Homo sapiens: one gene and its partners. The protein of the gene in region 2 purifies or fractionates together with the protein of the main gene of each other region. This does not show direct contact. Each region holds a gene or a part of one and is shown on either strand. Other genes may lie near its edges.

Evidence for each region. Proteins that work in one complex are often made in the same cells at the same time.
Region 1: the proteins of MYO5C (region 2) and TMOD1 purify together in Homo sapiens (affinity purification with mass spectrometry; 4 studies listed by BioGRID and IntAct, with this or other methods). This does not show direct contact.
Region 3: the proteins of MYO5C (region 2) and CAPZA1 purify together in Homo sapiens (affinity purification with mass spectrometry; 2 studies listed by BioGRID and IntAct, with this or other methods). This does not show direct contact.

The regions. Positions count from the first base shown.
Region 1 is NC_000009.12:97,504,054-97,511,665, reverse strand, and holds part of TMOD1 (tropomodulin-1), read right to left. Parts: intron 1-7,612. UniProt on the Homo sapiens protein: Blocks the elongation and depolymerization of the actin filaments at the pointed end. The Tmod/TM complex contributes to the formation of the short actin protofilament, which in turn defines the geometry of the membrane skeleton.
Region 2 is NC_000015.10:52,285,314-52,293,538, forward strand, and holds part of MYO5C (unconventional myosin-Vc), read right to left. Parts: intron 1-8,225. UniProt on the Homo sapiens protein: May be involved in transferrin trafficking. Likely to power actin-based membrane trafficking in many physiologically crucial tissues.
Region 3 is NC_000001.11:112,664,220-112,671,831, forward strand, and holds the end of CAPZA1 (F-actin-capping protein subunit alpha-1), read left to right. Parts: intron 1-2,854; coding exon 2,855-2,926; intron 2,927-5,323; coding exon 5,324-5,386; intron 5,387-5,676; coding exon of another isoform or gene 5,677-5,772; coding exon 5,773-5,913; 3' UTR 5,914-7,397; downstream 7,398-7,612. UniProt on the Homo sapiens protein: F-actin-capping proteins bind in a Ca(2+)-independent manner to the fast growing ends of actin filaments (barbed end) thereby blocking the exchange of subunits at these ends.

The sequences.
Region 1 (7,612 bases), on a different chromosome or scaffold from region 2:
CTGCAGTGAGTCCTGTTTGCACCACTGTACTCCAGCCTGGGTGACAGAATGAGACACAAAAAACAAACAAACAAACAAGCAAACAAACAAAAACTGCCCAGGGGTACACTGGGCTAAGCCGGGAAGTAGTGAGCACCTGTCTCTATAGGCTGTGAGCAGCGATGGCAGAGCCCTAGATGAGGTCTTCCAGAGAGGGTTGATGTCTTGATTGATGGTGGTTATTGGGGAGTTGACAATACAGGATTTAAGGCCCTTTAAGGCCTAGTTCTATTATGACAGATGTGCGTGGAGCCCCTGAATGGAGGAGGATGGGGACTTAGAGACCAGCTATTGTTAACAGACTTGTTTTCTGGCTCATTTGCAGTTATTTTCACTGGCTGATTTCATTCTCTTAGTCATATGGGAAAGTACCTTCTAAAAAAACAAACACACTAAACATAGTGTTTGACTCCATCACTTTCTGCAGTTGCTATGAGCTTCATCCCAGAACACAATGAGCCATGCTCGATGCTCTAAACGTCAAAGTTGTCAAGTGGTTTAAATTGGAAAAGCCTGTGTGTGTGTGTGTGTGTGTGTGTGTCTGTGTGTGTGTGTGCGCGCGCGGGTGCATGTTTTCATTTTGCATCTCTTGGGGTCATCATGGTGTCTGAGTCACCACAGCAATCATCTGTAAGCAACAGGGTTCCAGGAAAAGAGTCTGAAGACATCTCCCTGTCTCAGCTGGCCTGCCCACCTGCCCTCAAACCATGCTGCACTCCACTCCTCCTATGTCTCTGCAACTTTTCTGGTTCAGGCCACACTTAGCTCTCCCCACGCTCTGCCCCTTCCATTTCATTTCCCTCCACACCAGCAGAAGAGAGTTCTAGGAAGCTAACGATTGTAGTACAAACAAGAGAGGCCATCAGAGTTCTTTGGGAGTTATTGCATTATCTTCAGGCACCCCTACTCCCACAAGACTAAAAGCTACCTGAGGACAAACATCTCTGTCTCCCATGGTCCTTCACAAAGCCCTGCACCTGTCCAGTGCTGAAGACATATTCGTTGAATGAATGAATGAATGAATAAATGCCTAGCATTATTATTAGCTTTGATAGCCGTAAGTCAAAAGCACTTGTAGAATAAAAGCTAACCTGTAGACCGGGTGTGGTGGCTCAGGCCTGTAATCCCAGCACTTTGGGAGGCTGACGTGGGTGGATCCCCTGAGGTCAGGAGTTCGAGACCAGCCTGGCCAACATGGTGAAACCCCATCTCTACTAAAAATACAAAAATTAGCCAGGCGTGGTGGTGGGCACCTGTAATTCCAGCTACTCGGGAGGATGAGGCAAAAGAATCGCTTGAACCTGGGCAGTGGAGGTTGCAGTGAGCCGAGACTGTGTCACTGTACTCTTGCCTGGGCAACAGAGTGAGACTCAGTGTCAAAAAAAAAAAGCTAACTTGTAGGAAAGCTTGTGGAATTCATTCCTATCCTCATTCTCCATTTTACAAACATGAACTTCATCACATAGCCTCATAGCAGGTGTTAATGTAAGATAGAGCTTTATGAAACATGTTTTTGTATTTTCCAAAAAACCAATATGAAAATTAATACGAACAATACCAAAAAGCAAACGGCAAGCTGGGGGAAAATATATTTGCTTCATATTAAACAAAAGGCTGATTTGTTTAATAGACAAAGAGTTCCTCCAATAAAAAAACAGAACAGGCCAGAAAATGTGGAAAGAGGAGAGGAATAGACAGTTCACACAAAAGGAAATACTAATGGCTAATACACATATAAATAATAACAAAACTCACTTATAATTATAAAAAAGCAAATTGTGGAAGGAGATATCAGTTCTATCAGATTGACAGAGATTTAAAAGTCTGAGAATTCCCAGTGTTGACAAGATGTGGGGAGACCAGTGTCCTCACACAGAAGAGAAGTTACATTGGTATACCCTTTTTCAGTTCAAGACCAGCCTGGGCAACATGGTGAAACCCCGTCTCGCCTAAAAATACAAAAAATTAGCTGGGCATGGTGGCATGCACCTGTGGTCCCAGCTTCTGGGGTTTGGGGGAGGACCACTTGAGCCCAGAAGGTGGAGGTTGCAGTGAGCCACTGCACTCCAGCCTGGGTGAAAGAGTGAGACCTTGTCTAAAAAAAAAACAAAAAACAAAAAAAAAAACCTCTATTAGCGAAGAAAAACCCAAAACCCCCAAAACGGCATAAAAATTCAATAAGACATTGAGTAAATAAATTAGAGACATACAACAGACTACTATTAACACCATCCTTGAGGCTACTGTTGGCCACTTGTCACTGTACCTTATAATAGAAGCTTTGTTTTGTTCTTACTGCATACCAGGCACAATGCTAAGCTCTTTACATGGATTATTTCTTGCAGTCTTAATAATTGTGAAGCAGATACTTTTATTATCCCCATTTTACAGATGAAGAAGTGCAGACTATGTTAGATTTATAGGGCTGCCATAATAAATGACCACAAACTGGATGGCTTAAAACAACAGAGATTTACTCTGTCTCAGTTCAGAGGACCAGAAGTCCAAAATCGAGGTGTCAGCAGGGTTGATTCCATCTGGAGGCTTTGACGGGGAATCTGTTCCATGCCTCATTCCTACCTTCTGGTGTCTGCTGGCCATCCCTGACAGTCCTTGGTTTGCAGCCACATCACTCCAATCTCTGACTCTATCATCATCTGTTCTTACTAGTTATGCTGCCTATATAGGTTTATTTTAAGCCATCTCAAGCCTTTTTAAGGGCGTGTGTCCACTCTTCTTCTTAAGACACCAGTCATAGGGTAGTTAGGACGTACCCTAATCCAGTGTGACCTCATTTTAACTTCATTAATTACATTTGTAAAGACCATATTTCCAGAGAAAGGTCACATTCTGGGGTGCTAGGTGGGCATGACTTTTGGGGGGGACCCTGTTTAACCCAGTAAGTACACTGACCAAGGTCACAAAGCTAATAAGTGGTAGAGCCAGGATTTACATCCAGGCAGGCCATCAGTACTCATTACCAGTACTCCATGCTGCCACCTTCCCATAATATAACAGCTCACGCTTACATAATATCCCAGGCACGTCTTAAGCATTTTACATATAAGAACTAATTTCATCCCCACAACAACCCCAGTTTATAGATGGGGACACCAGGCACAGAAATGTTAAAAGTTGGCTGGGTACGGTGGCTCGCACCTGTAATTCCAGCACTGTGGGAGGCCGAGGTGGGTGGATCACCTGAGGTCAGGAGTTCGAGACCAGCCTGACCAACATGGCGAAACCCCATCTCTACTAAAAAATACAAAAATTTGCCAGGTGTGGTGGTGTGCACCTGTAGTCCCAGCTACTCGGGAGGCTGAGATAGGAGAATTGCTTGAACCTGGGAGGCGGAGGTTGCAGTGAGCTGAGATCGCCCCACTGCCCTCCAGCCTGGGTGACAGAGCGAGACTCTGTCTCAAAAAAAAAAGAAAGAAAGAAATGTTAAAAGTTACCTGAGATTACAGAGCCAGTAACTAGTAGACCTTGGATTTGAATCCAGCAAGGTGGTCTCCAGAGTCTGTGTGTGTGTGTGTGTGTGTGTGTGTGTGTGTGTGTGTGTGTGTGTGAATCAGGAAGATAGATTGTGTTTCATTATGTGTCAATTGCTATTTAAGGCCCCCCAAAGGACTAATGAAGGATTTGAGTCTGCCCTTCATTGCTCCTAGGTTCCCTGGCCTTGTGCAGACTGATCCGGAGTCCGCCTTAACTACTATGCCCTCTGTCTAGTGGCCTGTCTTGACAATATACTGAGGATTGGGGTTAAGAAAATAGTTCCCTCTCCTGAAAGACTGATTGATGTTCTTCCTTCTACTATCAGACACCAAGAGTCCTCCCATTCATCTTGTCCCCCCCTTTCCCCTTGGCTGCCATGAGTCATCTCAGAGCCAATTTGAGTGTCCAAATACAGTTGTCATCTTCAGCCAGGGCACTGGCATAATTTTCTCTCTTTATTCTCTGTATCGGGTGCTCTTAACCCGGACTTTTGAATAGGCTTCAGGGGAATCACACACCCACTGAAATGATATGCAAATTGTTGTGTATATGAATATATTCATTTTTGTGGAGCAAGAATTCATAAGCTCTAATCAGATTCTCCAGGAGTTTCGTGATCTTAATCTTCAGGGTTTCTGCCTGTCTTTCTAGAATTTCTGTTCTTACTAGTTGCATTGGTCATGTAGTTTATTTTTTAAGCCATCTCAAGCCTTTTTAATGCTGTAAGTGGAATACAATGTAAAACCATAATAAGCAAATGCGTGCAATGTTGCTATCCATTCTGAATTTTTAAATCTCTCTTGGTTTGCATGGAGGAAGTCTGTCCTCACGTCTCCCTCTCTCTTACCTTCACTTTGCACACTTCTGAGTGGTTTTGATGTCTCAGGGTCTCAGGTGTCTCAGGTTCCCATCCCAGCACTGCCCAGGCACCCATCTTGTGCTCATAGATCCAAACTTGCAAGAAGTTTGCTGACCAGAAAGAGCCCTTGATTTTGATCCAAGGCACAAATGAATTCATTTGTAGATTTAAAAATCCACTATCTTAATGCAATGGCCAGGAGGAAGCTTTGTGGTAACTAGCACTCACCTTGGTGTTCAAAATGTGGTGGTTTGTAGATACTAGTCAACACCACCTGACTAGATGTTTATTAGAGCTTATTAGGAATTATTAAGTTTATTTTCTAATCAACTTATTAGAGCTTATTAGAAGCAAGGAGCTTTTTAGAAACTCAGACTCTCAAGCCCCATCTCATACCTACTGAACCAGAATCTGCATTTCTGAAAAGATCCCAAGTAATTTCAATGCACATTAAAGTTAGAGAAGCACGGATATAAAACAAGAAGACTCATTTCTCAAGTTTGTCAAACCCTGGAGAGCACTTCAGTTTTCTGGAATTGGATGACCTGGGACAATTCCTACTAGGGTTCACTGTCCCATTACAAAAGGTAGGTAACAATACTTGCTGTTCCTCCCTCATGGGGTTACTGTGAATTTCAAATGAGCTCTTGGATTCACACTAGCTACGTATCATGATGGGGCTGATAGGAGCTGGAGAGCTGGCAGTGGGGAGCAGAATAGGTGTGGTCTCTGCCCTCATAGAGCTGATGATTTGGTCGGGTAGGAGAACATGCTGTAAATGCTGGTTGGTGTTGTGTGACTGTCCTGGTTATCACAGAGCCTTCATTCATTTATTTCATGCATTCATTCATTCATTCGGTGGTCAGCCATTTATTAAAACCTGAAGTGCCTGTACTATGTCACACATTAAGCTCTGAGCTGCACATGGGGAAGCAGAAATAAATGAGTCAGAAACCTCGTCCTCAGGGAGCTTTTAGTCTAGCCAGAGACAGAGATACATCATTGGGTGGTTCCATTTAGAACACACTCTGGCTGGTGCTCTGAGTTGGCACAGGGGGCTGTGGGGGTACAGGTAAATCAATGAAGAACTTTGCTTTTAAGGGTGATTACAAGTTCACAGACTGAGAAGAGGGAGAACAGCACTGAAGGCCGAAAGAACAGCAGGGGAAAGGCAGGGAGGCATGAAGGCACAGCATGCTTTTGCCATGGCCAGAAGGTAAAGAGAATTTGGAGGAGTGCCTAGAGATGATTTTGGAGAAGTAGCTTGAGGCCCGGTCTTAGAGGCTAATGAATCTGGTCTTTATCCCTTAGGAAATGGGGAGTCCCTGAAGGGAGACAATTGACGCAGGTGAAGATCTTTTAAGAGCAGCATGGAAGAAGGAATGACTTGAGGCAGAAATACCTTTAAGAGGCTCTGAGAGCAGCTTAGGGGAGAGAGGAAGTCCTTACTGGGGTACTGGATGTGGCGATAGAAATGGATGTAAGAGAAATTAAGGAAGGTAGCATTGACAGGACTTGGTGGGCAAATGAATGGGGTGGTGAAGAGAAAGGAATCAGGAGGCAGAGATGTCTATAGATGAGGAGCACAGTCCAGCTTGATGCAAGAATTAGGGAGTTGGGAGGTGACTGGAGTCGTGGGAGTGAATGAGACTGTGAGAGTGTGCGGTGGAAAGAGAATAGGGGTAGGAGTGGCACCAAGGCACCAACAGCAAAGCGATGGGCAGCAGCGATGAGTCTATGAAGGAGGCTGAAGGATGCCCAGAGGCAGTTCTGCTTTCCTTCATTCCTTTGGGCATGGAGAGCAACAACGCAGTGGTCACAACTCATCACCCTCCAGAATCATCGCTAGAAACGGCCCTGGGGTCACCACCCTTGAAGCCCCAGAGTGAGTGGGGCCTGAGGCTGGGGCCCCTGAGAACATGAACTGAGACAGGGATGGACATGCGTGGACGGACGCAAGCCCTTGTCTCCCTCTCCCTCCCTCTTTCCTCCTCACAGATGGTAATGTCCAACCCTTTCACAAATCATTTTTTTCTCTGAAAGAAAACCAAAAGGACATAAGAGAAGGAGAAACAAAAGGCATGCTTGAGTTTGTTTAGTTTTTCAGATCAGACAAAAACCCAGCAACACCTAACACGAAAGAAAACCTCCCAGACCGTGTCCTAAGTTGACTCCAATGAGCTCATTCTCTCATTAAGAGCAAAGAGAATTAGGTTCTATCATGATTAGCCAAAGGAAGATTTTACAAAACAAAACAAAAGAGAGGAAATGGCCCGGAATTGTGCTATCTGGTTCATGCTTTTCCATAGAAACAGGCCTGTGGTTTTAAACTGATAATGGCTCCTAGCAGCCCAATAATTGATTTATCTGGTGTTCTGGCTTTAAGGGAAAAGTAAACTGGCCTCTTTAGAAATGTTGGCAGCCTGGCTGGTCCATTAGTAAGACTGAAAAGTCAAAACATTGACTGGAAAAGGCCATTACGACCGGGCTCAGCAGGAGTCATCGATAGATGATGTCATTTCAGAAATAAATAAGCCAAGGTTATGAGGCCCCAGAGCAGGGTCAAAACACTCTTCACAGCCCATCACCATCCTCCATCGCAGATACTGGTCTGCCAGAGACATAGGGGTCTGAGCCAGGATCTGCTTCGTTTTACCTTTTTTTGCTCATTCCAGGGGATGAAGGCCACCTGCAGAGTCTGTGACATTCTGCAAGTCACTAAGGAAGGTCCCCAATCCTCATTATGGGCACACCTTTTAGATTCCCCTTTAACTCTCTCCCCTCTCCTGGGTTCTTCTCACTACTTGCCATACTCTTTATCCTAGAATGCCTGCCTCCCTTCTGTTCCTTGTCCTCAGTTCCTGCTACCTTCCCTCTCCCTTCCTTTCTCATCCAAGCTTTTAGAAAGAGTTGCTGGCTCTGTTGAGAGCCTTCTTCAGCCTACAGCCTGAAGAAGTGGAGAACTTCTTCAGCTCCTGTTAGCTCCTGCCTTTCCCCCTCACCACAACGAATACTATCATTGCAATATCAGGCTCTGGGCTGAGGGCTTGCCCTGAATCATCTCACTTAATTCTCACAAGCAGCCCCTATGAAATGGGGCTATTGTTGTCTCCATTGTATGAGGAGAAAACGAGGCTCAGACAGGCTGGGTCACTGGCAGATCTCATTTTTTGAGCCTGCTGCAATACCCTGGTCTAAGTCACTCATGATCCCTGCCAA
Region 2 (8,225 bases):
GCCGAGATCGCACCACTGCACTCCAGCCTGGGAGACAAGAGTGAAACTCTGTCTCAAATGAAAAAAAAACAAACAGGCTCTCGCTCTCCCTCTCCCTCCTCTCCCTCCTCTCCCTCTCCCTCTCCCTCTCCCTCCTCTCCCTCTCCCGTCTCCCTCCTCTCCCTCCTCTCCCTCCTCTCCGTCCTCTCCCTCTCTTTCCACGGTCTCCCTCTGATGCAGAGCTGAAGCTGGACTGTACTGCTGCCATCTCGGCTCACTGCAACCTCCCTGCCTGATTCTCCTGCCTCAGCCTGCCGAGTGGCGCGCCGCCACGCCTGACTGGTTTTCATATTATTTTGGTGGAGACGGAGTTTCGCTGTGTTGGCCGGGCTGGTCTCCAGCTCCGAACCACGAGTGATCCGCCAGCCTCGGCTTCCCGAGTTGCTGGGATTGCAGACGGAGTGTCGTTCACTCAGTGCTCAATGGTGCCCAGGCTGGAGTGCAGTGGCGTGATCTCGGCTCGCTACAACCTCCACCTCCCAGCCGCCTGCCTTGGCCTCCCAAAGTGCCGAGATTGCAGCCTCTGCCCGGCCGCCACCCCATCTGGGAAGTGAGGAGCATCTCTGTCTGGCCGCCATCCCATCTAGGAAGTGAGGAGCGCCTCTTCCCGGCCGCCATCCCATCTGGGAAGTAAGGAGCGTCTCTGCCCAGCCGCCCATCGTCTGAGATGTGGGGAGCGCCTCTGCCCTGCCGCCCCGTCTGGGATGTGAGGAGCGTCTCTGCCCGGCCGCCCCGTCTGAGAAGTGAGGAGCCCCTCCGCCCGGCAGCCGCACCCTCTGAGAAGTGAGGAGTCCCTCCGCCCGGCAGCCACCCCGTCTGGGAGGAGAAGAGTGTCTCCGCCCGGCAGCCGCCCCGTCCGGGAGGGAGGTGGGGGGTCAGCCCCCGCCAGGCCAGCCGCCTCGTCTGGGAGGGAGGTGGGGGTCAGCCCCCCGCCCGGCCAGCCGCCCCGTCCGGGAGGGAGGTGGGGGGGGTCAGCCCCCCGCCCGGCCAGCCGCCCCGTCCGGGAGGTGAGGGGCGCCTCTGCCCGGCCGCCCCTACTGGGAAGTGAGGAGCCCCTCTGCCCGGCCACCACCCCGTCTGGGAGGTGTGCCCAACAGCTCATTGAGAACGGGCCATGATGACAATGGCAGTTTTGTGGAATAGAAAGGGGGGAAAGGTGGGGAAAAGATTGAGAAATCGGATGGTTGCCGTGTCTGTGTAGAAAGAGGTAGACATGGGAGACTTTTCATTTTGTGCTGTACTAAGAAAAATTCTTCTTCCTTGGGATCCTGTTGATCTGTGACCTTGCCCCCAACCCTGTGCTCTCTGAAACATGTGCTGTGTCCACTCAGGGTTAAATGGATTAAGGGCGGTGCAAGATGTGCTTTGTTAAACAAATGCTTGAAGGCAGCATGCTCGTTGAGAGTCATCACCACTCCCTAATCTCAAGTACCCAGGGACACAAACACTGAGGAAGGCCGCAGGGTCCTCTGCCTAGGAAAACCAGAGACCTCTGTTCACTTGTTTATCTGCTGACCTTCCCTCCACTATTGTCCTGTGACCCTGCCAAATCCCCCTCTGCGAGAAACACCCAAGAATGATCAATAAAAAAAAAAAAGAAAAAAGAAAAAAAAAAAAGAAAAACTAACAAACAAACAAACAAACAAACAAAGTTCACAGTTACAAGTACTAGACTAGGACAATGCTGGATGAGGAACCTATCTATTAGTTAATATAAATCGCCTTACTTAATCAATAAAACAGAAAAGTCACTGGATGGATATCAATCATGACTACCCCTAAATCATTTGAGTTGCTTTAATCCTTAACAGCTAGCAAAAAGCAGAAGCTTGCCGAAACGTGACATGGATGTGTAAGTTTTGAGAGAACGAGAATGGAAGAATGACCTGGCAGGCAGTGACACACACTCTTGTGCAGATAGGACGATGGAGGCCTCATAAAGAAACACACAGACACGCCTGTCTCAGGCACACACACCCACACCCATCCTTGTTGCCACGGGCTACACAGCTCCTACCCCAGGTCTGCTATTGAAAATATTTATTACTAACGTCATGAAGCTTACTTCATTAAAATGGATTAGGAATGGGATCCTCATAAGAGACACCTGAGAGTTGGATGTATTTTCTACAATATGTACCTATTACTTTCATAATCAGAACAATGAATGTTAATCTTTAAAGGCAAATATCAAAATATATGCCCCCCAAAAGAATTGTACATGAATTACCAAATTTATCAAGAATTGGCCACTACAGAGTCTCAGAACTGATTATCTACTCCAAGTTGTTTGTCAAACTCCTTTTTAGAGCTGCAGAAAGCCTACTTCAAAAGGAAGTTCTGGCCAGGCGCGGTGGCTCACGTGTGTAATCCCAGCACTTTGGGAGGCCGAGGTGGGTGGATCACCTGAGATTGGGAGATTGAGAATAGCCTGACCAACATGGAGAAACCCCGTCTCTACTAAAAATACAAAAGTAGCTGGGCGTGGTGGCGCATGCCTCTAACCCCAGCTACTTGGGAGGCTGAGGCAGGAGAATCGCTTGAACCCGAGAGGCGGAGGTTTCTGTGAGGCAAGATCTTGCCATTGCACTGCAGCCTGGGTGACATGCGTGAAACTCCGTCTCAAAAAAAAAAAAAAATTAAGTTGTAACAGCTGGCTAAGCGAAGCTGGTGAAAGTGGAGGTGTTCTGATGGGAGCTGGAGCTGAGAGCCCTGGGGGCCTTCCAAGGAAGCCTGGGCTCTGAGAAGTAATGTGAAAGTCACTAGGCCAATCAATCCTTTTGTTTAACAGAGCCCCTAACTGAAGCCCAGAGAGAAATAACTCACCAAACAGCAGACAGAGTCTCAAAGGACCAGGACTCCAGCAGAGCTAGGGCCTGTGACTCCTAGTTTGAACTCCGTATTAGTTAAGCGAATCTGGCCCTGAAAGTAATCCTGAACTCTGAACTGCAACCATCTACTTGAGAGTCCATGTGCTCTCCTAACTATAATTTAGGATTGGTTTCAGCTAAAAGTGGTATTAAATGGCAGGCAGTATTAGGACATACGTAACCACTGACGGCTTCTCTTCTGAAGACCAGTGACTCCTCAGCCCAGTACCCCAGGCCGCCCACACCCTGCGATCCTGGTGCTTCTGCTGGCATTGAGTGCCCTGCAGCTGAAACCCAGCCTGGTAAGTAAACAACGGTGAGTTTACTCAGCTCCGGGTAAGTTCCACCCATTCATTCCTGTCCCCTCCTCCCTCACATTCCTCTACCCACAAAGCAATGCTTCAAACTGGAGGAAGAGTTAACTTTACAGCATTCATCCAAACAGATGCAGTCCGCAGTTCATGCAAACAATGTAACCAGCTGTCAACTGACCTCCAGAATATGGGGCCTTCCCATGAGGCAGGAGTCTGTGGACTGGGATGGAACAGCTCGCCAAGCCCTTCAGCGGAGCCAGGAAAGAGAGGGCCACCTCCCAACTTCCCTGAGTGCCCTCCCCATGCCAAGGCGCCAAGCTGAGGCAGAGGCTCGGGACCACTGAACCTTATGAGCTCAAGACCATGCCAGCCACCCCCCCAAGGCACACAGGTGAGATGAGAACAGCATCTTCTCACGCCGCCTGCTTTTCTGAGGGATCTTCTGGCATGAGCCACAGAAATGACTTGAAGACTTATATGGAAGATGGGACAAGATGGGACGACATGTGTTTCCCTCCTAGAACCGCTTTCTGGACTGGGAGTGTCCACACTCCAGGTCAGCCAGGCCAGATTGTCACACCATGCCCCTCTCTTCCTCCTCCTCTTCATTCGCTCCTCATGGGCCCCTCCCCTGGCTCCCCTGCCCCTCCCACTGCCCCCCATGTCCGTGTCTCCCAAGGTCCTTCCCAGCCTCTTCTCATGATAGGCTGTTTCTGGAGAGTTCCACCCAATTCCACAGCTTCTGCAACTGCCTGGCACCTGTGCATCTGAGACCTCCCACCCAGATCGTGCACTGGAGCTCTACACCACATTTCCAATTGCCTCCAAGATGTCAGCCCCTAAATGTCCTCATAGACTCATAAATTCCAAACTCCAGTGATGCCGACGCTCCTCCTTCCTAGCTCTCTTGCCCCTCATGTCAGAAGCCTGGGACAGTGCTGGGCACCCCTCTGTGTCTCCACCCCAACAGCCCAACAGTCACCAGGTGCTAGAAAAGACTGCCTTTTAAAAGCCCTCTCCTGTCCGCCCCTGCCTACCAGCCCCCTTGCCATGGCCATAAGTCAGCCCCCAACCCTACCCCCACCAATCCTCTCTTGACTGGTGCAGCAGCCCCCGGAGGCTTCCTCAGCCAGGCTGAGCACGAGGTTTCTTTGGGCAGACAGACTCTCTCATCCGTACTTGATTGGAATTCCTGTGGGTGGGGCCCGGCAAGAGAAAAGCTTTGAAAATCAACCCCCACATGGGTTTTGAGGAAGAGCCAGGCCTGGGCAACCAGCATTCTGGCCAATTTCCTGCTCAGGCCTCACCCTCTTTTCAATCCACCCTCTGCCTGTGGCCACCCAAAACCACTAGCACTTTCTGGAACATGGCAGGCCTTCTTTGGCTTTCTGCTGTGTACTTCTGTTCCTTCCACCCTAGCCCCACCCATCCTCTCCCCATCCAAGAGCAAACAGCTCTGAACAGTCTGGAGTAGCTGGAGACACTCCTCATCTTGGCACTCTCCTTGCCACTTGCCATCTAGCAGAGCTGGATGCTTCCCTTGAGCGCTCTCTGCTCCTCCCCCAGGTATCTAGGCTGCCTCCCATCTCCCCCACTGGCATTTGAACTTTAAGAGCCTGGTCTTTGTGCTTGGAATCCAATGCAAAGGCTTCCCATAACTAGCACTCCATAAACAACTTTTGAACAAAAATTCAAATTCCCAGTGGTTCAGTTGCACCAATTAAAGACTAAGTATTTCAGTCTTTTCATCCCTTTTTTTCTCTTTGAACTACCCATACATAATACAATGGATACATTTAATTTTCCAGAGTTGTTAATGGTATATAGAAGTCTAAAAACTATTTAGAATTAGCCAAATTAAAAAAAAAATCGTTACGCTGAACTTTGACCTCATTTTAGACAGGGGCCCTGGACTGCTAGTCAAGACACTTCTTTTGACCTTGCACATCTGAGTTTCAGCAGAACTTTGAAGATATTTGTGAGTTCCTCTTGCACAAGTGAAAGAAACAGATGGTGGAATGACTGTAGTGAACCTGTCACTACACAGTCATAACCTGAGTTCTAATTAATGAGCAAGAGCAACCTTTAGGAAAAAAAAAAAAAAAAGGTCTCCAGAGGCATGCCACAGAGCTCTACCGCCTCCCCTTTCATTCAACACTTTCACCAGTATCGTAGATGAAAAAACAAAACACATGTATCAAACAAGCAGATGAAATGATTGATTAGCTAAAGATGATCAAGATTCAAAAGGTTTTTACAAGCTACAGAAACGCTGGGCACTAAACAAAACAGAAAATTTTATAGGGATAAATGTAAAGTCTGTATTTAGGTAAAAAAAATCAACTGTATTATAATAGCATCAGTATTTGAGTAATCTTTATTAAGCATTATGTGTCAGGTGCTGTGCTAAGGATTTTACACGCCATTAATCCTCATAGTGACCTCCTCAGCTGGTAAGCATGATTCAGTCCATTATACTGGTGTGGAAACTCAGGTTAAGTAACTTGCCTGGTGTCACCCAGTTAGTAAGGGGCAGGACCAGGACTTGATTTGACCCACCAGGGGCAGAGCATGTACCAGCTCTGCTTAAAGCACTAACATAATGCCAGGATACACTGAGGGATGCTCACAAGAAGTTGCACCGTACTCATGGCTGAGCAGATCAAGGCTAGAGAATAGTGCCACTAAAATGGGCATCAAGGTGTGAAAATTCACCCAGAGGAAGGTGGCCTGGATGCTGAGGGTCTGGAATGATGCTGTCAGAGAAATGGTTGGTGGCACTGTCACTCTCCTCAAGCCGTCTGTCCTACCCACCCTTCCTGCTCAGCAGCTGTCAAGCTCTCTGGGCTTTCTTCCTTCTCTGTCAGTATCTCTGTGCCTTCAACTCCTGCCACTGTGGCCTCAGGCCCTCACTCCTTTCTGAGGTTAACCCATGCCTGGTGCCTTTCTTATGTCTTCAAACTGCAGTCCTCTGCTGGTTTCCTCCCTTTCACGGGTCATGTCAGACTTTCCCTTTCCCCTTCACAGTTCTACCCAAACAGAAACGACGCCAGGGACCAAAACTAGCGGCCAAACCTAACAACCCATCCCCAGCCTTCATCCTTGTTGACTTCTCTGCAGCTACTAGAAAGAAAGACCGTCCAATCTTTAGGCAGTGATATGTGTGGTCTTTTTTCTTTGTTTGCATATTTTATGTTTTTTTTTTTTTTTTTTTTTTTTTGAGACAGGGTCTCGCTCTGTCGCCCAGGCTGGAGTGCAGCGGCGCGATCTCGGCTCACTGCAAGCTTCGCCTCCCGGGTTCACGCCATTCTCCTGCCTCAGCCTCCTGAGTAGCTGGGACTACAGGCGCCTGCCACCACGCCTGGCTAATTTTTTTGTATTTTTAGTAGAGACGGGGTTTCACCGTGTTAGCCAGGATGGTCTCGACCTCCTGACCTCGTGATCCGCCCGCCTCGGCCTCCCAAAGTGCTGGGATTACAGGCGTGAGCCACCGCACCCGGCCGCATATTTTATATTTATCTTCATACAGTATATAAACTGTTGTGCCCCATTTTTCACATAACCATGTTTTCATGTTATGAACTCTTCAGAAATAGTACTTTTAATGGCTTCATGCTGTTTTACCATGTGAATCTTCCATAATTTACTTAACTTTACCCCTCTTGCTGGACACTGGGATTGGTTCCAATTTAGTTATTATAAGGAAAAATACAAATAAGCAGGTGTCAGGAGAGGTAGGTAGAAAGTGGATGAACTTCTCACAAGCCCACTGTGTGCGGGGAAAAGGTCAGATCCCTTGAAGAAGAGGAAGATAATAAAGGCGGTTGAACCAAGGTGGTGGTAGTGAGAGACACTAAGAACATAGGTTTTCAACTCCGGCTCCATCACTTGTATGTTACCTTAGCAACTTACCTGACCTGAGCCATTTCTAAAAGTGTGAGATCATCTAACACACAGAGTTGTTTATCCAGATTAAATGAGAGGCGGCACATGAAACTCTGAGGATGGCATCTAGCACATAGAGATAAAAATAACATCATCCATATCATCGTCTCCATGGTCCTAGCTATTTCTGTAAGCAAAAACGTTCAGTCATGCACACAGGTGCACATCAAACATTTATGAAGCTCCCACTGTCCCCTGCTCACTGAAAGCTCTTGGTCAATAGTGGAGACACAGAGTTCACGAGCTGTTACCAGGCAATATGGAAGGCACCGTGTGGAGGGGCTAGCTGCAGAGGCTTTCTCAGAAGAGGTCCTGCTCAAATTGAAGGTGGAAGGTGCAGGTGCCATGAGCAAAGGTGACAGACAGAGGCTCAGACAGGTGGAGTTCGTGTGCCAAGGCACGCAGTGGCAACGTGCAAGCAAGGCATTGAGGGAATGGCAAGGAGTCTGGCAGAGCATGAGCCAGGTAAGAGCAGGAAGGCAGGGAGAGAGGCAGGACCTCGTGGCTGGTCAGTGAGTCTGAAAGCAATGGGAGCCTCTAGAGGTGGTAGAGCAGAGAATGCCAGACCGGCTCTTCTTAAGAGAGATTTCAAATAGGGGAACTGCTGCTCTGAACATTTCTAAGGCATGGCACCTGTAGCTTTTCAAAAGAGATGGATGATTTTACACCTCACCTGGCAGCGATTGCTCCCCTCACCAAGACTTCTCCTGGAGTTCCCTCTTCCCTGTTCCCACAGGGTGGCTTCCAGCTCCCCTGTTAGCTCCTCCTCTGGATGGCTCCATCTCAGCCCTTCTGCTTCCTCTCACTCCTTGCACAGATGCATTCCCCGCTGGCCTGTCCCTCACCCTCTTCTCTGTCTGCCTTCTCCCACCTTGGTGAGACCCTCAGTGTCTTGTTGGCTTCAGTGACCACCTCTGGGCAGAAGACCCTCGGCAGGGCCCATCCCCTCCCTCTGACACCTCCCACCCTGCAAGGCACCTTCCCTTGGAAGCCCCCTCACCCCTTCAACCCCTGCAAATACAGAACTTGCCTGATGACTTTCTTAAGAAATATTTCC
Region 3 (7,612 bases), on a different chromosome or scaffold from region 2:
GACACTGTCTCAAAAAAAAAAAAAAAAAAAGATACTTATTTTTGTCCTTTAAACAAGGATAGGTAGGGGGTTCTTGTTATCCAGGAAAGTCTTTTTGTTGCAAATAGCTTTCTGCCTAGATGAAGCTTGACTGTTAGTTATGCCCTTCTAATGATATCCACAAAGAGTAAGCCCCTGCTGAGACACTATTTCTCCCCAGATCAAGGAATTTCTAACTTTTTGACAAAACATAGCATTGGGAGGTATTACATATGTTGGATAGCTCTGGAATTTGACCTAATTCAAATCCTAGCTCCTCCTCTTACTAGGTGTGTGAACATGGATAAGTTATTGTTTAATAACTGCCTCAAGGCAAACTTCAGTTTCCTCAGCTGTAAAATAGGGTTAGTCGTAGTCCTCATCTCATAAGAGTTTTTGTAAAGATTAAATGTGGTGGCCTAGCGCAGTGGCTCATGACTGTAATCCCAGTACTTTTGGGAGACCGAGGTGGGTGGATCACAAGGTCAGGAGTTCGAGACCAGCCTGGCCAACATGGTGAAACCTCGTCTCTACTAAAAATACAAAAGTTAGCCGGGCGTGGTTGCGGGTGCCTGTAATCCCAGCTACTTGGGAGTCTGAGGCAGGAGAATCACTTAAAGCGGGGAATCGGAGGTTGCAGTGAGCCGAGATCGTGCCATTGCACTCCAGCCTGGGCGACAAGAACAAGACTCTGTCTCAAAAAAAAGGATTAAATGAGGGAATATAAGTAATAGTGAAGTGTTTGCACAGTGTCTAACACATAGTAAAGGCTTAATAAATAATAGCTCCTACAGCTAAGATTACTGAGTAAGTGAGATGAAGTAAGTGAAGATTACTGTTCTTCTCTTTTCCTTTTCTGCTTTATCCCTCAAAACATTCTGTTTTGTTCACATATCTCCTGGTAGCATAGACTAGATGTCTTTGTTTGGGGTTTTTTTGTGTTTTTTTTTTTTTTTTGAGACAGAGTCTTACTCTGTCACCCAGGCTGGAATGCAGTGGCATGATCTTGGCTCACTGCAACCTCCGCCTCCTGGGTTCAAGCAATTCTCCTGCCTCAGCCTCCCAAGTAGCTGGGATTACAGATGCCTGCCACTACACCTGGCTAATTTTTTTTGTATTTTTAGTAGAGATGGGGTTTCGCCGTGTTGGCCAGGCTGGTTTCGAACTCCTGACCTCAAGTGATCCGCCCGCCTTGGCCTCCCAAAGTGCTAGGATTACAGGCATAAACCACCGCGCCCGGCCTTGTTTCAGCTATTATAACACAATACCTTAGACTGGTATACCTTAGCAGAAATACCTTAGCAGAAATTTATTCCTCATACTTCTGGAGACTAAGAAGTCCAAGATCAAGGTGCTGTTAGATTCAGTGACTGGTGAGTTCTGTTTCTCATAGGTGACACCTTCTGCATTCTCACGTGACAGAAGGGGTGAACACTGTCCTCATGAGGTAGAAGAGTGGCAAGAGAGCTTGATTGAGCCTCTTTTAGAACGGCACTAATCCCTTGAAGGCTTCATCCTCATGACCTAATCACCTCCCAAAGGCCCCTCCTCTTAATATTATCCCATTGCATATTGGTCCAACATAAGAATTTTGGGAAGGTACCAACATTAAAATCATAGCACTAGATAAATGGCATTACCTGGACTATTGTTCTGGCATTATGTCTCCAATAGCAGCTCCTTCGTTTTATTTTCTTCATAGCACAAGTATAATCTTTCTAAAACATTCCTTTTCCCGTGTGTCACCTATAATAGGATAACATCTGCATTCTTTTTTTTCCCTAAGATGGGGATCTTGCTATATTGCCCAGGCTGGTCTTAAACTTCTGGCCTCAAGTGATCCTCCCGTCTTAGCCTCCTGAGTAGTCTGAATTCTTAACATGGTTTATAAGGTGCTTTGTTCTTCACAGTCTGTGTTTCCACTTCATAGCAATGTCTCCTGCCACACTCCTTTTTTACACATATTCATATGCAGTGAGTTCTTTGTTCTTCTCCAAATTAAACCAGTTATACTCCATTCTGTTATACTTTTTTATCTCCTTGGTGTAGATGTCATTCTCTACCTGTCTACTTAGGTGACAACTACTGTTTTCAAGATCCTATTCAAATGCACAAAAGGATACCCTCATCCTATTGTGTATGACCAATTAGTAGCCTTGTCAAGGTGACTAAACCTATCTTAAGTTGCCAAAACTTAACCTAAAATGTCATTGACTTGTTAGTCTCTTCTCCTTTTTGCTAATTGTTTGCATAATTGTAGCACTTCACTTTACCTTACATATTCAGAACTACTTTTATCTTACTTTTTAAAAATATCTGATTTACCAATAAAATATTTGTTTTTCTGTCCTGTCTTTAACCCTCAATGTGACTTTTCCTGTACCTGGTCAGTTCTGCTTACCAACATTGATGATAATGTATATGGAGAAATGTGCCAAATATTAGGTATGAGGATCCATTAAAATTCCTTGGTTTTCACAGAGAAAAACTAATGTTTAATAACTTTAATTATTTTAATATTGTTAAGAGTGGGATCTCATTTACCTTTGTATTCACAATGCCTAGCACAGTGCTTAGAATGTGAAAAGCATGTAATAAATGTTTCTTGAACTTAATAATCAGTTTTCCTTGCTAAGGAAAAAGCGTTCTTAAACTTAAGTGTTCTGTGGATTAATTAACCACCATTGTGAATTACCACTGCTTATATTAATTATTTGTTCAGAGTTGGTAAAATGGCTCATCAACTTAAAGATAGCTTAAAGCATGGATTTGTGTCCTAAATAACAGGTTTCTCTATGAACTTCCCCTAAAAAGGCTCAAACATTGTCTCACACAGGTTCACTATTATGAAGATGGCAATGTTCAGTTGGTTAGTCATAAAGATGTACAGGATTCACTAACTGTTTCGGTGAGTATGGAATATTTAGTGTCTGTCTTACTCATGTCTCGTTTTTCTTTAAAAAATTAGTTTTGATCCTGAGTGCTGATTCTGCCAGTAGAAATTCAGTTTGCTTTTAATGTTTTGATTTTGGCCACTTCTGTTAGTGCCTCTTATCACCAACCAGCATATATTAGTTCACAGTTTTTGACTCACAATATTGATTATGACTTTAGACAAATGTCCTTCTTAGTCGCTCTCTCAATTGTAATAGTTACTCAAGGACAGCAATACCTTCATTCAATAAATACCAAGAGCAAGGAAAGTTTACCAAACTGCATCCTATAGGGCTGCATTTATATCATTAGAGAAACAACATTTTTAGGAGTATTCAATTAGAATGTTTTGTGGTTTGGTGGTGGTGGTCTATTTGAGACAGGAATTCACTCTGTTGCCTAGGCTGGAGTGCAAGGAAGGACATGATCACAGCTCACTGCAGCCTTGAGCTCCCAGGCTCAAGCGATCCTCCCACCTCAGCCTCCCAAGTAGCTGGGACCACAGGTGCATGCCACCATGCCCAGCTAATTTTTTTATTTTTGGTAGAGATGAGGTTTCTATGTTGCTGAGGCTGGTCTCAAACTCCTAGACTGAAGTGATCCCCCTGCCTCAGCCTCCCAAAGTACTGGGATTACAGGTGTGAGCCACCATGCCTGGCCACTATTGTGTTCTATACCTTGAAAGAAGAGACATGATTTGTTCTTGCATTTCTTTGATAGTCTCATTACTTCTTTAAGTTATTAGAAGTTATTGAGTACCCCCAAAGAGTTTTTGTTTATGTGTTAGATCTATCAATGTTTACCTCACTAAAAATTAAAGCTGAGAAGTGTGGGCCGGGAGTGGTGGCTCACACCTGTAATCCCAGCACTTTGGGAGGTCGAGGCAGGTGAAAGCTTGAGCTCAGGAGTTCAAGACCAGCCTGAGCAACACGGTGAAACCCTGTCTCTACAAAAAAAATATAAAAATCAGCTGAGTTCCTGTAGTCCCAGCTACTTGGGAGGCTGTGGTGGGAGGATCACCTCAGCCCAGGAAGGTTGAGGCTGCAGTGAGCCAAGATCGTGCCACTGCACTTCAGCCTGGGTGACAGAATGAAACCCTGTCTCAAAAAGAAAGAAAGAAAGAAAACTAAGAAGTGTTAAAACTATTCGTTAATTAAAAATAATGATAACAAACCCATTACTTGTTAATAAGTAACATCTTTGTGAATATATTTTCCAAATCAAAAGAAAAAAATAGTGGGAAGAATGGCATTAGTCTGTGTCTTCACAAATTGTGTATTAAAAGATGGCGGACTTTATTGTGATATTAGTTGTTTTTTGCTTGTTTGTTTGTTTTTTTGAGATGAAGTTTCGCTCTTGTTGCCCAGGCTGGAGCACTGTCTTGGCTCACTGCAACCACCACCTCCCAGGTTCAAGTGATTCTCCTGCCTCAGGCTCCCGAGTAGCTGGGATTACAGGTGTCTGCCACCATGCCCAGCTAATTTTTGTATTTTTAGTAGAGACAGGGTTTCACCATGTTGACCAGGCTTGTCTTGAACTCCTGACCTCACCTGCCTCGGCCTCCCAAAGTGCTGGGATTACAGACATGAGCCACTGTACCTGGCCTCTGCTTCATACCTTTCATTATCCCTGAAAGTGATAAAGTCATCACACATCATGTAGTTTCTAGGAAATTACATCATACACACATTACAGAGTGAAAGTGAAACAGGCAAATAACTTTGTGTTAGTATTATTATGAAAGTAGAAAATAGTTTTGACCTCATAGTCTGTCTTAGGACTGCAGCTCTAGATATTAAATCCTACCCTCTTCCCTTTAATTCTGTTGTACTTAATGGTAACAGGAAGAGGGAGATTCATTTCATTTTAGACTTGAACCACGTGGTACAAAATGTGATTGGCTAGTTTAACATCATAAGTGGCAAATAAAGGCATATGTGAGCTTATGTATATGACTGATGTGTCCAAGGGCATTGTTCATACCATTTTAAACCAGAAATATTTTCAAGGCATCAAGGTTTCAAGACTTGATGATGTCTTTTGGGCGTACTGTGGTAGAGTGGAAACAGCATGGGTTTTTTTGGTGAAGACCTAATTTCAGATCCCATCTTTATCATTCAAAAGCTGTATAATTCTGGTCAAGTTGCTTAAGAGGATTCTGTTTTCTCATCTGCAAAATGGGGGTTATGATTATAACATAGTGTCTTCCATAGAGTTGTTGTGAGAATCAAAGGAGGGTAGTGGGCATGGGAACACTTGGAAAACTAGAAATTGTCATACAAATGTTAGTTAAGATGGACTTACTTTCAGGATCTTACTGCTTACACATTAAAAAAAAATCTGATTTTCCCCTTCTTCCTTCCTTCATTAGAATGAAGCCCAAACTGCCAAGGAGTTTATTAAAATCATAGAGAATGCAGAAAATGAGTATCAGGTAAGAAGATTTGGAGTTAATTTTCCTAGATCTACTATCTTATTATTTCGCTGTTAGCATATTTTGTTAGGCCTTGTGTCCTTTAATGTAAATATACATGCTCTTCAGTTTTACTAAATGTGGGAGACTTTGCAGACCTTCCAAGTTGGCATTCTGCTTACAGTCAGGGTTTGAGGATTGCTTGGGACTGTAGCCCTCATTTTAGAAATAATATAGGTGAACTTCTTGACCTACTTCAGAGATTGGAGAGGAGCTCATTGAAAATAATATATCCTGTCTATCCTTCACAGGGGACTCAAGCATATCCATTGACTATAGCATTACTTTTCTGTTCACAACCAGCCCCATTTCTGTTCAAGCAACTCATCTTCAATTATCTATTGCAGACAGCAATTAGTGAAAACTATCAAACAATGTCAGATACCACATTCAAGGCCTTGCGCCGGCAGCTTCCAGTTACCCGCACCAAAATCGACTGGAACAAGATACTCAGCTACAAGATTGGCAAAGAAATGCAGAATGCTTAAAGGCTGAATGTAGGATTCTTCAGTATGTGGAAAGACAAGGATTCAACGTGTGGTCATATGATAAATAAGTGATTTATAAACAAGAGTGATATTTTGCTAGGGCTTTCAAAGTTAACCGGTTTTCTAGCCTCATGGAATACTGTTGAACCTATAGCGTTGTCTTGATTCTTTTGTGTTCTCTGCCTTGTAATTTTCTGTTACTGCTATATCTACGTGTAAATCTTTTTTTCTTTTTTTTTTTTTTTTTTTGGTTAATTCTGCCACATTTAATGTTGGTGAGAGAGTGATCTATCCTAATGACATTTTACTGTTTAAAAAAGTTTCCTAGCCATGAAGCCCTGCTACTGATTTAGACAAGGTATTATGGTCATTACTTTGTACCCCTATCCTTCCAAGCACTTCTGGTACTTCAGTCGTTTTTACTGATCCACCAACACCTAAAGAGGCTATGCTACAGTCTCTAGCTAAATGGAAGACACATTCATCCTTCTCCCTCTGACTGCTTTGATCATCATTTATTGCATCTCATAACTAATTTTCTAAAGTTTGGATTGGGACTTTTCAGGTCCTTTTTGGAGGGCAAAGGAAGTGCCAGCTTCTCTGGGGAACTTGTTTTTAAATCCAAAGACTTGAACCACATTCCCTGCACATGAACATGTTTGCTTTTATCCCTTCTCTCATTGTCTCCTTCCCATCTTAGTACCATTGTAGTTATAAACATCTGCATTTTTTAGAAGCATTTTACCCATTTATTTTTTTAAACATTCAAGAACTGCTGACGTACTGTGGATGTAGAGTATAAAACTTGAAAAATGCAGATGTTGAAGGAATAATAGGTATCTTGTGCTTTAATACTTTATGGCAGGATTGTACTATAAGCAAATGAATTAAACAGCTATGTAAATCATAAAGAAAAACTAAAAATGAACCAAAGTGAAAGGATAACTTCCAGGCAGTATCTTTCTATTGTAACCTGTTATTTAAGGAAATACTAGTGATTTCTTCTAAATAGGATGTAAAACTTCTTTCAAATTACTCTTCCTCAGTCCTGCCTGCCAAGAACTCAAGTGTAACTGTGATAAAATAACCTTTCCCAGGTATATTGGCAGGTATGTGTGTAATCTCAGAATACACAGGTGACATAGATATGATATGACAACTGGTAATGGTGGATTCATTTACATTGTTTACACTTCTATGACCAGGCCTTAAGGGAAGGTCAGTTTTTTAAAAAACCAAGTAGTGTCTTCCTACCTATCTCCAGATACATGTCAAAAAAAGAAAGGTGTTTGTGCTTCCGTTTTGTTTCTGCTCAGTAATATAGTCAAGCAAGTTTGTTCCAGGTGACCCATTGAGCTGTGTATGCATTTTTGTTTATTTCAATAAAATATATTTGTATTATTTGTCCTTCATACTATCCATCCATACCACACTATCTTCTGTATCAGGTAGTCTAATAGAAATATACCTGTTTTGTTCTAAAATTGTCTGAGTCTCTCCTTTTTGATTCATCGCTTCAGCCTTGGTTCTCAAGGTAAGATATTCAGCTGTATTTGATCTTATGTTGAGAATGTTTAGGGTTTCTAAAATTGGTTTCTACCTTCAACTATTTATAGACTCTGAATATCCACAGATTTGCAAAGAACAGCTTTTTAAAGCGTGAGCAATGTCTATGGATCATACTGCTCTTCACTCAAAG